Regions from separate parts of the Homo sapiens genome. Here region 2 is linked to region 1. Evidence: fine-mapped expression QTL. A gene starts in region 1. The other region holds a variant in brackets. All regions are shown on one strand. Distances are from middle to middle. Region 1 holds the start of RIN1 (Ras and Rab interactor 1). Region 2 has its middle 15 kb from the start of RBM4B.

Evidence for each region. PIP is the estimated chance that this variant, and not a neighbour inherited with it, causes the effect. A credible set is the group of variants that fine-mapping cannot tell apart.
Region 2: its variant is the best candidate, but not a certain one, in a credible set for the expression of RIN1 in whole blood (INTERVAL, PIP 0.51).

What each region holds. Positions count from the first base shown.
Region 1 is chr11:66,333,965-66,339,476 of GRCh38, forward strand. It overlaps RIN1 (Ras and Rab interactor 1), which reads right to left and starts at 2,470. Exons shown (of 10, transcript NM_004292.3): 1 at 2,353-2,470; 2 at 2,014-2,194; 3 at 1,798-1,912; 4 at 1,646-1,718; 5 at 1,443-1,534; 6 at 550-1,287; 7 at 1-260. The coding sequence starts at 2,438. It overlaps BRMS1 (BRMS1 transcriptional repressor and anoikis regulator), which reads right to left. Exons shown (of 10, transcript NM_015399.4): 8 at 4,757-4,821; 9 at 4,279-4,318; 10 at 3,375-3,925. The coding sequence ends at 3,918. RefSeq lists an enhancer at 2,950-3,804.
Region 2 is chr11:66,659,920-66,664,919 of GRCh38, forward strand. It overlaps a transcript of RBM4 not described here. Among named protein-coding and RNA genes, the nearest start is that of RBM4B, 15 kb to the right of the region's middle. The variant G/C (reference allele first, on the strand shown) is at 2,053.

The DNA.
Region 1 (5,512 bases):
GAGCCGCTTGACCTGGGCGCTGGGTGAGTAGGTGCGGAGCAGCTGCAGCAGCTTCTGGCGCACTTGCTCCAACTCTACTGGGGAGGGCAGGCTCAGGTGGGACCCGAAGGCTCCGGGGCCCTGGGCCCGGGCCAGGCGGAGGCCCTCAGCTAGGCGGCCCAGGGAGCCGTCTGCGGCAAGCCGGCGCCGCAGGCGGGCTGCCAGGATGGGCCGGAGAGGCTTGAGCACAGAGCAATGCAATGACTTCTCCAGGACATGTTCTGCCGGAGGGACAGGGAGGGGTCAGGGGAAGACTGGGGGTATGGGGGGCAGAGGCAAGGGGAGAAGGGAGCAGGGGTAGAATCGGGGAGGAGAGGCAAGGAAAGCAGGAGGAGGTAGCCTGGGTGAGACGGAAGAGTTGGGGGAGAGAGGGGATGGAACTCTCTCGAACAGTGGTAAGACAAGATGGATTTGTAAAGCAGCAGAACAGAATCAGACAGGCTGGCGCTGTGGAGGGGAGCAGAGGGTCGGATGGGGCAGTGCTGGAGCTATGGAGAGACGGAGCCTCACCCAGCCTCTTAGGCGACAGCAGCTTCTCAGGGCCCAGCTCCGCACTCAGCATGGCCCGGGCCCGGCTCAGCGCCTGACGGATGCCCTGCAGCTCCTGGGGCTCGGGCCCAGCCCGCACCTGGGTCAGTAGGTCCTGCACCAGCTGGCCCGCGGCTGTGTGTCGGTCCTGCATCAGTGCTGCCGCAGCCCGGCCCACCTGCCGCTCCGGTGCCAGTAGGGAGCAGAAGGCGGCGCTCATGGACCGAAGCAGAGGTCGTCGGCGGCCCAGGTGGGGTGAGGTCGCTGGGCTCCCCCGGGACCCTGGCACCCCCTCCTCCTCGGAGCTGCTGGGGGAGCCGCAGTCCACCTCTTGGAGGGAGGGCATAGGCGGAAGGCTAGGGCCACTGCCTGCTGGCACGCGGTACCCCACTGAGCTCTCCCTCCGTAGCAGCTGGCAAGGGGGCAGCCGCTCTGTCTGGCTGGGGACTGCCCCTGGCAGCACGGGGACGGGGGGAGGTGGCACGGCAGGTGGAGACAGGGGGCTGGAGGTCTCTGTGGACACGCGCACTTTGAAGCTTCTCTTGAATTTCTCCCGCTTGGTGGGCCCTAGGTCCCCCGGGAACAGGGGGTTGAAGAAGCACAAGGCGGCTCCGGTGCCCTGGTCCAGCTCTTGAGGGGACCGGGCCTTCAGCTGGGGCAACACTGGGCCTCCAGCCGGGCCCCGCTGAGCCTTGATGTTGAGGGAGGAGCTCCAGAACTCTAGGGAACAAGAAACCGACTGGGGCCTCCGGGACTGGTTAGGGGAAGTTTCCCAACCAAGGCAAGGCAGGGGCTTCGGGCGGTGTGCTGCGAGCCTTGCCTTCCCCTCGGCCTCAGCTTGTTCATCTGTGCAATGGGTGGCAGGAAGCCCTTACCAATGCCCAGATGGGAGATGGCCTCCAGCTCTTTGTGAGTGGCTGCGTGGTGGATGGCTCTGGGGAGCTGCAGCGGGAGGAGAAGGATGTCCCTGAGGCCAGAGAGGGGAGCAGAAGGGAGTGAGGGCCGAAGAGGGCGGGAAGGATGGGCTGTCCCAAGGAGCAGGGCCCGTGGACACCAGGCACCCTGCGGGCAGACTCACCGGGTGTGGCAGTAGGCACAGATGAGCTGGACTAGGTCTGGGAACATGAGCTCCGAGCCCTCCAAGGAGACGCCTGAGAGAGGAGGGAAGTGAGGTGCTTCTCTGGGGAACCTCCCTGCTTCCAGCCCCTTCCCGCCAGGCCAGCCCCTCACCGCCAGGGCTCTCCAGGATGTAGTGGCTGGAGACGAAGGAGGGGCCACTGGCTTCAGGCAACCGCATGCACAGGGCCTGGCACTGGCGGGTGTTAGATTTCCGCACGAGGAACGTCTGCAAGTGGATAGGGCTCAGGCAGCTCAGGACCTTGGCGTCCCATCCCTCTCCCTCCCACCCCTGGCTGGCCAGTCCCTGGAGTGTGGGGCAAGACTCACCCCCGGGGGCTCGGTCCTCAGCATGTGCAGTGCGGCCGCTGCGTTGGCTTGCAGCTGCAGCCACACGGGCCGGGTGAGCAGCAGGCGCTCCCGCAGGCTCACAACGCGCCCCGGCCGCTGCGGCCCGCCTGCCTGCCCGCCGCTGGCATTGGGCACGTCATACAGTGGGTCCTGGGCTGGCCTGGGGGCAGGCACCCAGATCTGAGCAGGGAGCCAGGGGCTGGGACCCTTGCTCTCCTCTTCCCCACTCCCGGGTTTCCCACTTTCTCTATCCCCGGATAGGCCCTCCTCTCGCAGCCCCTCCCTGCCCCACCTGGCTGCCCTGCCAACTTCACTAACTTTTCTCTCGCCAGGTGCCCAGTAGTGAAGCTGGACGGGCTGGGGGCTCCAGGAGAGCCCGCGCCTGACTCTCCAGGGCTTTCCATGGCTGGGAGCTCCTTCGCTTCAGGAAGAGAATCCAGTCCCAAGGCAAGGCACGCACATCCCCAGTGAGTAACACTTCCTGAGGGCGGTCCGCCTGTCACACCCGCCAGTTAACTCTTGTGTGTCCACCCTGCCTGGCCAGTGCCCGCCTCCTCTGTTCTGGACCCTGCTTTGGGGGTCAGGGGTCCCCTCCATGCTAGCCCTGCTCTGAGGGCCCCAGCTGGGGGATGCCACCTCCACACACGGCCTCCTGCAGCCTCACCAGCTACTCACATTGCACACGTGGGCGGGAAGTGGTTAAGCGGCCTCAGTCCCCACAGGCCCCAGCCATGCTCTGGGGGCACCTTTGGCTCTGTGGTCAGTTGCTCATCTGCCCCTGGCCTCAGGTCAGCCTTGTGGGAGAGCACCCTCTACTGTCCATAGATGACTCATTCCTGAACCTGGGTTTTAGGATTTTAGGTTGCCATGGAGAAAATATGCCATGTCTCCATGGAAACCAACCTATTTGCTTAACTGAGGTTCTGGGGGTGGTTCTGACACTCAGTGCTAACCAGGGGGAGTCTGGCTGTGAGGTCGTCAGCACATGGCGGTGCTGCCGGCTGCCTCCCACGCACGCAGGCTCTGCCAGCCTGCCTTGCCAATCTGCCAGGCAACTGGGACAGGTGCAGACATGACCCAGGCTCCAAGCACACGCATCCACCCTCCCCGCCGAGGCACTCTCCCGGTGCCATATGTTGACTCTGCCCAGCGCCAGGCAGCCCAGCGCCCACCTCCCCCTCCCCAGCCTGGCCCCACGCACAGTGCTCTAGCCTCTGCTGGGTAGTGTGAGGAGTGGCAATCTGCAGGCACCCTAGAAGTCGGCCTGGTTCAGGTGCTCCCCACGGGAGCCCTGATTCTCTTGCAAGGTAAATCACACACACACACAGGGCACGCCAGAGTCCCAGGAAAGGTTTTAATTCCAGTCCTTGGAATCTGAGAAGCAGACACCAAGAACTGCCCTGAGAACACCTGGGGGGCCTGGCATCTTGCCTCCAGATCCAGCCAGGGTGGACAGACCCCCAGATAATCACGTCTGACTCAGAGTTCCCGCACAGTGGAAACTGGCTCCCTGGCCCTGAGGCCGGACAGCCTGCATCCAACATCAGCAAGAGGATGTGGCTTTGACTTCGGCTGTCTTCTCTGTCAGGGGAGCCCCAAGAGATGGATCTTCAGGAGTGGGAGGTGGCAGGCGGCTCAGGGATGGAGACAGCAGCCTTGCCTGGTCAGGTCAGCTCCACGGCCACAGCTGTGCAGGCCTCGAGGAGGGCAGAGGAGGAGTCCAGGCCAGTGCCAGATGGAGTGGGAGGGCCCAGCAGCACCACAGGAGCCTGGCTGGGCAGACCCTGAGGGGCCTGTGGGTCCGCCTGTCTGCAGGAGGAAGACGAGAATCCTGGGTGCAGTGCCAGCTGCTCTGAGGGTCCCCCTGGCTGTGAACAGCAGGGTCAAGGTCCTGTGCATATGTGGGAAGAAGAAAACTGTCACCAGTTAGGAAGCTGAAAGGAAGGAGGCAGCCACTTACTGAGTGGCTTTGGGCTGGCCCAGAACAGGCCTCCTGGGCAGCTCCACAGCCCTCCCTGACCCCTCCTGAGTGGGAGCTCCATCAACCCAGAGCTTCCCCAGCCCCATCCTGGTTCCTGCTCCTCAAACTCCCACAAGCCCCTCAAATCTAGACCATCCTAACTTTCTTGAGCCACTGATTCTGACACAGTCACAGCCTTTCTCTGGGCTCCTTCCTGGAAGCTGAGCTGAGGAAAGGTGATGGCAAGGGGGCAGGGAAGGCCATGCAACAGCCATGGTTCTTACCATCCGATTTTCTCTTCTGAGGGGACACAGCTGCCCTAGCCTGGGTGGGTGAGAAGAAAAGCTCCCCTGAGAGCCCACCTCCAGCTTGGCAATCCCTGCCCCACCCCCCACCTCTGTGGCTTGTGGGCTGTTGCCTCAGTGCTGTGCCCCCAGGACCGGGAGCATAGGCCCCACCCAGGCAGAGCTCCCATGCTCCTGACTGCTGGCCAGCTCAGCGGCTCTCCCGCCTCCCCGCCACCCTCCCACCCCATCAAAACCTGCCCCAGAACGGGAAGGGGCTGACACAGACTAGAAATCCCTTTTCCCAGGGCCGCCTTGAGCAAGAGGACTTGTGAGCCAACTGCGATCCAGGGACTCTGGGCTGAAGATGGGGAAGCCTTGGTGAGCAGAGAACTCCCAGGCCTGCAGATGGCAGAGCTGCTGCCAGGGTGGGGGGCCCTGAGGTGGGGCAGGTCACGTGGGCAGCAGCGGCCCCCACCTTTTTGATGGCTGTCCAGTCCTCCAGGATGTCGATCTCTTGAAGCATGTACACGATGTATGGGCCTGTGGTGGGGGTCAAGGAAGCCTAGTGGAGGTGGCAGGTGACGAGGGCAGGGCCACCCACCTGACATTCAGGAGTGGGGGTACAGCGGACAGCATGGAGTGGGAGCTGAGGACCTGGGTCCGAGGTCAGGTTCCACCTCCTACCTCTTAACCCCCTGGTTCCAGGGGTCGTCCTGGAACCAAGTCTATGGAGGACACCAAATGTTGTTCCCTGTCCCTTGCTCACCCTCACCTCGTCTTAGGTCAGCTGGCTGAGGCCCATCCCATCTCACTCTGCAGCACTGGCCCTAACCTGGCCCCTTCCCTGATCCAAAGACAGACGCAGGGCTTATCCCTTCAGAGACAACTCTCCCTCCCCCAGTGCTCCCTACTTGATGTCTCCATGCCTTCACCTTCCATTCACTCAAGTCATGGCCTTCCAGATTCCTCCCTCCCTGCCTGGGCCTGCTCTCCAGCACCAGGTTGCCATAATGACTAAGACTGGCTGCTGCAGGAATACCCTCAGGGGTGCAGGAGGACTCAGCTCTGCCAGGACAGATGAAAGCACAGCAGGCCCTGGACTAAGCTTAAGCTAGCCCTGCCTAGGAAGGGGTGGAGGCAGCCAGTGCCCTCTGGGATGTGGGTACCCCATGGTAGGGCACAGAAGCACACAGGAAAGTGAAGCCATAGGCACCAGGGTAAGACCAGAAGA
Region 2 (5,000 bases), 330 kb after region 1:
AAATCAGATGTTTCTTTCGTTACTTAGAACCTTTCAGCAACTTCCCCTTTTATCTAAAGTAAAATGCCCAATCCCTTAGTTTGAACGTGCCTTTCCTCTGTCACACTTTATTATCTCAGGCCCTTTTCCCTGCTTATCTATCCTTTTCTGACCATACTGACTCTCCTTTCAGATCCTTGTATACACTGAGCTCTTTCCTGCCTCAGGGCCTTTTTTTTTTTTTTTTTTTTAAATCTGAAGGGACCTTTCTCTTTACTGCTTTAGAGCTAACTTAACTTCAGGTCTTAGCTTCAGGATCAAGTATTGGAATGCCCTCCCAAACCACCTGTAGCTTAGTAGATATGTCCTCCCATTATTCCCTGCCATTGGACCCATTTTGTGTAATTTGTGGTACTTATCACAATTTCTTTTTTTTTGAGATGGGAGTCTCTCTTTTTTTTTTTTTTTTTTTGAGACAGAGTCTTGCTCTGCAACCAGGCTGGAGTGCAGTGGCACGATCTTGGCTCACTACAACCTTTGCCTCCTGGGTTCAAGTGATTCTCCTACTTCAGCCTACTGAATAGCTGGAATTACAGGCTTCTGCCTAATTTTTTTGTAGTTTTAGTAGAGACAGGGTTTCGCCATGTTGTCCTGGCTGGTCTCAAACTCCAGACCTCAGGTGATCCTTCTACCTCGGCTCCCAAAGTGCTGGGATTACAGGTGTAGGTAGGCCACTGCACCCGACCTAAACTTTTTTTTTTTTTTTTTAATTTGAGATGGAGTCTTGCTCTGTCGCCCAGGCTGGAGTGCAGTGGTGCGATCTCAGCTCACTGCAAGCTCTGCCTCCCGGGTTCACGCCATTCTTCTGCCTCAGCCTCCCGAGTAGCTGGGACTACAGGCATGTGCCACCATACCTGGCTAATTTTTTTTGTATTTTTAGTAGAGGCAGGGTTTCACCATGTTAGCCAGGATGGTCTCGATCTCCTGACCTCGTGATCCACCCGACTCGGCCTCCCAAAGTGCTGGGATTACAGGCGTGAGCCACTGCGCTCAGCCGTGCCCGGCCTAAACTTTCTAAATCTCAGTAGCCTTAATTGCTGGGAGAGCCAGTGATGCTACCTCATTGGGTTCTTGTGGATTTGCAGGGGTGACAGATACACGGTTTGAATTTGGCCTGGATTCTCAAAGGCCCTGCAAACCTAAGGCACTTCAGATTGAATTCATCTCGTCAGATTTTTCATTCTTCTCCTGCAAGTTCCTGGAGCTGATTCTATCATTTCTTGCATTTCATTTCTCCTCAGCGGCAGAGCCTAGCTCTGGTCTGAAGAAAGCCGAGATTGATCTTCCAACAAACTGACAGCTCTTCCCAGGAATATTTATTTCTCCCCTCCTTCCTTTTCCCAAATCTCCTAGGCCAGGTGACTTCCTGAGGACCAGGTTTGTAAGCAAAATCCTGACAAGCTATGAAACCAATCTGGGGCAAGTTGCTTCCCTTTTCTGGTCCATCTTGCAGGCAGCCAACCTTTTTCTGCCCTTAGGACAAGTTTCTAACAGCACCTTGAGTGCCCTGAGGGCCTAGTGTCTTTCTGTGCCATGCTGGAAACCTGAGGAAGGGGGTAGATCTGAGGCTACAGAAACCACATATGCCTCATTCATCACCATGTTCCCACATCCTAGCTCATAGTAGGAATTCAAACAGTTGATAAATGAATTCAGGAGCTTTTAGCGTTGAGAGGCCTCATGGGACTCTGAAATGGTCTATAGTGAGAAACTTGGTGAACTAAAGGAATTTTGTATTCACAATATGCAATTTATCATATAAGAAGTAAGGTTTAGGAATAAAAACATTGGCCAGGTGTGGTGGCTCACGCCTGTAATCCCGGCACTTTGGGAAGCCGAGGTGGGTGGATCACCTGAGGTCAGGTGTTCAAGACCAGCCTGACCAATATGGTGAAACCCCATCTCCACTAAAAATACGAAAATTCACCAGGCGTGGTGGCGCGCGACTGTGATCCCAGCTACTGGGGAGGTTGAGACAGGAGAATTGCTTGAACCTGGGAGGCAGAGGTTGCA[G/C]TGAGCCGAGATCATGCCAGTGCACTCCAGCCTCAGTGACAGAGCGAGACTCCATCTCAAAACAAAAAAATACATTTGTCCTACTCAACAGTACTCTTTTGGTGTGAAAGGTTTTCTAAAATAAAAATTATGCAATTCTGCAGGGCTTTTTCTCCACCTATGAGCAGCTTATTTTACTATCTAAACTGCTGTCCAATAGAGTAGCCACTAGCTACATGTAGCTAATTATAATTAAATAAAAAACTCAGTTTCTCAGTGGAATAAACCACATTTCAGGTACTCAGTAACCACAGTAGCCACAAATTGGACAGCACAGATATGGAACACTTCCATCACTGCCAGGAGTGTTATTGGGCAGTGATGATATAGAACTCTTTTGCAGAAAATTTTTTTTCTTGTGCCAATGACATAGAAATCAAGATACTTTTATTTATTTATTTATTTTTTTGAGACAGAGTCTCACTCTGTTGCCCAGGCTGGAGTGCATTGGCGTGATCTTGGCTCACTGTAACCTCTGCCTCCTGGGTTCAAGCGATTCTTGTGCCTCAGCCTCCCTAGTAGCTGGGATTACAGGTGCACACCACCATGCCCGGCTAATTTTTTGTATTTTTAGTAGAGATGGGGTTTCACCATGTTGCCCAGGCTGGTCTCAAACTCTTGAGCTCGGGCAATCCACCTGCCTCAGCCTCCCAAAATGCTAGGATTACAGGCGTGAGTCACGCACCTGGTATATGTTAAACTTCCTATGTTAAATTGGTTGAAACCTAGCACAGAACCACCAGAGATTTTGCTGAGGCCAGCAAAACCTGCAAATTTTTTTTCTTGGCTCTGCATAGTGCCTTGCAGATCATAAGAAAATCCCAGCATCTTTGCCTTATTTTCCCTTTTGTAAAACAGAGACAGTCTTGCTTCCTTGGGGAATACTGACGCTAACATGAGCCTTATGTACATCACCACTGGTTGGAATGTGTGCATGGATGGACAGGTTAACTTCTGTAGATTGTCAGACCATTCCCCTAAGAAATAAGGGAAAATTTTTGCTTCACCTGTCAAGATTAAGTATAAAATATGTGAGGTAAATGCTTTATTATTGTAGGTAAAATTTCACATGTAGTCAGAATTTACACATCAACATTTCCATATAAAGTACAATAAAGCTTAAGTAGAGTTGAGTCCATCATTAAATGTGTTCTATGGGGATCTAAACAAAGATAAATAAGATGTCCATAATCTAGAAGACATACTTTACTGCAAAATGTCACTGCTAATCATTAATATGTGATTTGCTTTTCTGCTCAAAGTACTATGTATGAATATTTTAGCCAAAGCCTAATCCTAGCAGAATATTAGCACCTTGGGAAGACAGACCTCTTTTAATAGCTCATAAGTGAATTTAATTTTTTATTTTTTTGAGATGGAGTCTCGCTCTGTCACCCAGGCTGGAGTGCAGTGGCGTGATCTCGGCTCAGTGCAACCTCTGCCTCCTTGGTTCACGCCATTCTCCTGCCTCAGCCTCCCGAGTAGCTGGGACTACAGGCGCCCGCCACCACATCCAGCTAATTTTTTGTATTTTAGTCTTGATCTCCTGACCTCGTGATTCGTGTGCCTTGGCCTCCCAAAGTGCTGGGATTACAGGCATGAGCCACTGTGCCTGGCCTAATTGTTTTTTAAAAATTAAAAAAGGAGAAACACTGGAGAGGGGTGGTAACTAGGCAAAAATGTGTGTGTATATGTGTGTGTGTGTGTGTGTGTGTGTGTATATATGTTTTCTTTTTGTTTTGTAAATATGAGCCAGAAAACTATGAAGTCAAATTTAGTTAATGTGATAGGTCCTTGGAGAGAATCTGGCTCAGCCTTTTTCTGATGCAGGGCTTACTCCTAGCACTACTAATCTGAGTCTGTTAGCCTTTAAACTGGTTTAAGAGCAGCTCTGGTTAGAGAAAAGTAGCCTCACCACCAGCTGTAGCAAATTTAGCAGTGTCTCAAGAATCTGGCTAACTTCCTACCACCTATTACTGAAGCCACAGCACTAACCTAAATCCTTTTTTGTTGTTTTGGAGACAGGGCCTCCTGTTGCCCAGAATGGAGTGCAGTGGCATGATCACAGCTCACTGCAGCCTCAACCTCCTGGGCTCAAGAGTCTCCCACTTCAGCCTCTTGAGTAGCTGAGATTACAGGCATGCACCACCATGCCCAGCTGTTTTTTTTTTTTTTTTTTTTTGAGATGGGAGTACAGTGGTGCCATCTCGGCTCCCTGCAACCTCTGCCTCCTGGGATCAAGCAATTCTCCTGCCTCAGCCTCCCAAGTGCTGGGACTACAGGCACTCGCCACCACGCCTGGCTAATTTTTGTATTTTTAGTAGGGACAGGGTTTCGCCATGTTGGCCAGGCTAGTCTCAAACTCCTGACCTCAGGTGATCTGCCTGCCTCGGTCTCCCAAAGTGCTGAGATTACAGGCGTGAGCTATCGCGCCTGGCCAACTAATTTTGTTGTTTTTGTTTCTTTTGAGATGGAGTTTCGCTCTTGTTGTCCAGGCTGGAGTGCAATGGTGCAATCTTGGCTAACTGCAACCTCTGCCTCCTGGGTTCAAGTGATTCTCCTGCCTCAGCCTCCTGAGTAGCTGGGATTACAGGCGCCTGCCACCACGCCCAGCTAATTTTTGTATTTTAGTAGAGATGGGGTTTCACGATATTGGTCAGGCTGGTCTACCTGACCTCAGGTGATCTACCCACCTTGGCCTCCCAAAGTGCTGGGATTACAGGCGTGAGCCATCACGCCCAGCTGGCCAACTGATTTTTTATTTTTGGTAGAGACAGGGTTTCAACATGTTGCTCAGGCTGGTCTTGAACTTCAGTGGGCTTAAGTGACCTGCCCACCTCAACCTCCCAAAGTGCTAAGATTACAGGTGTAAGCCACCATGCCTGGGCTTAAATCCTTCCTTCTATATC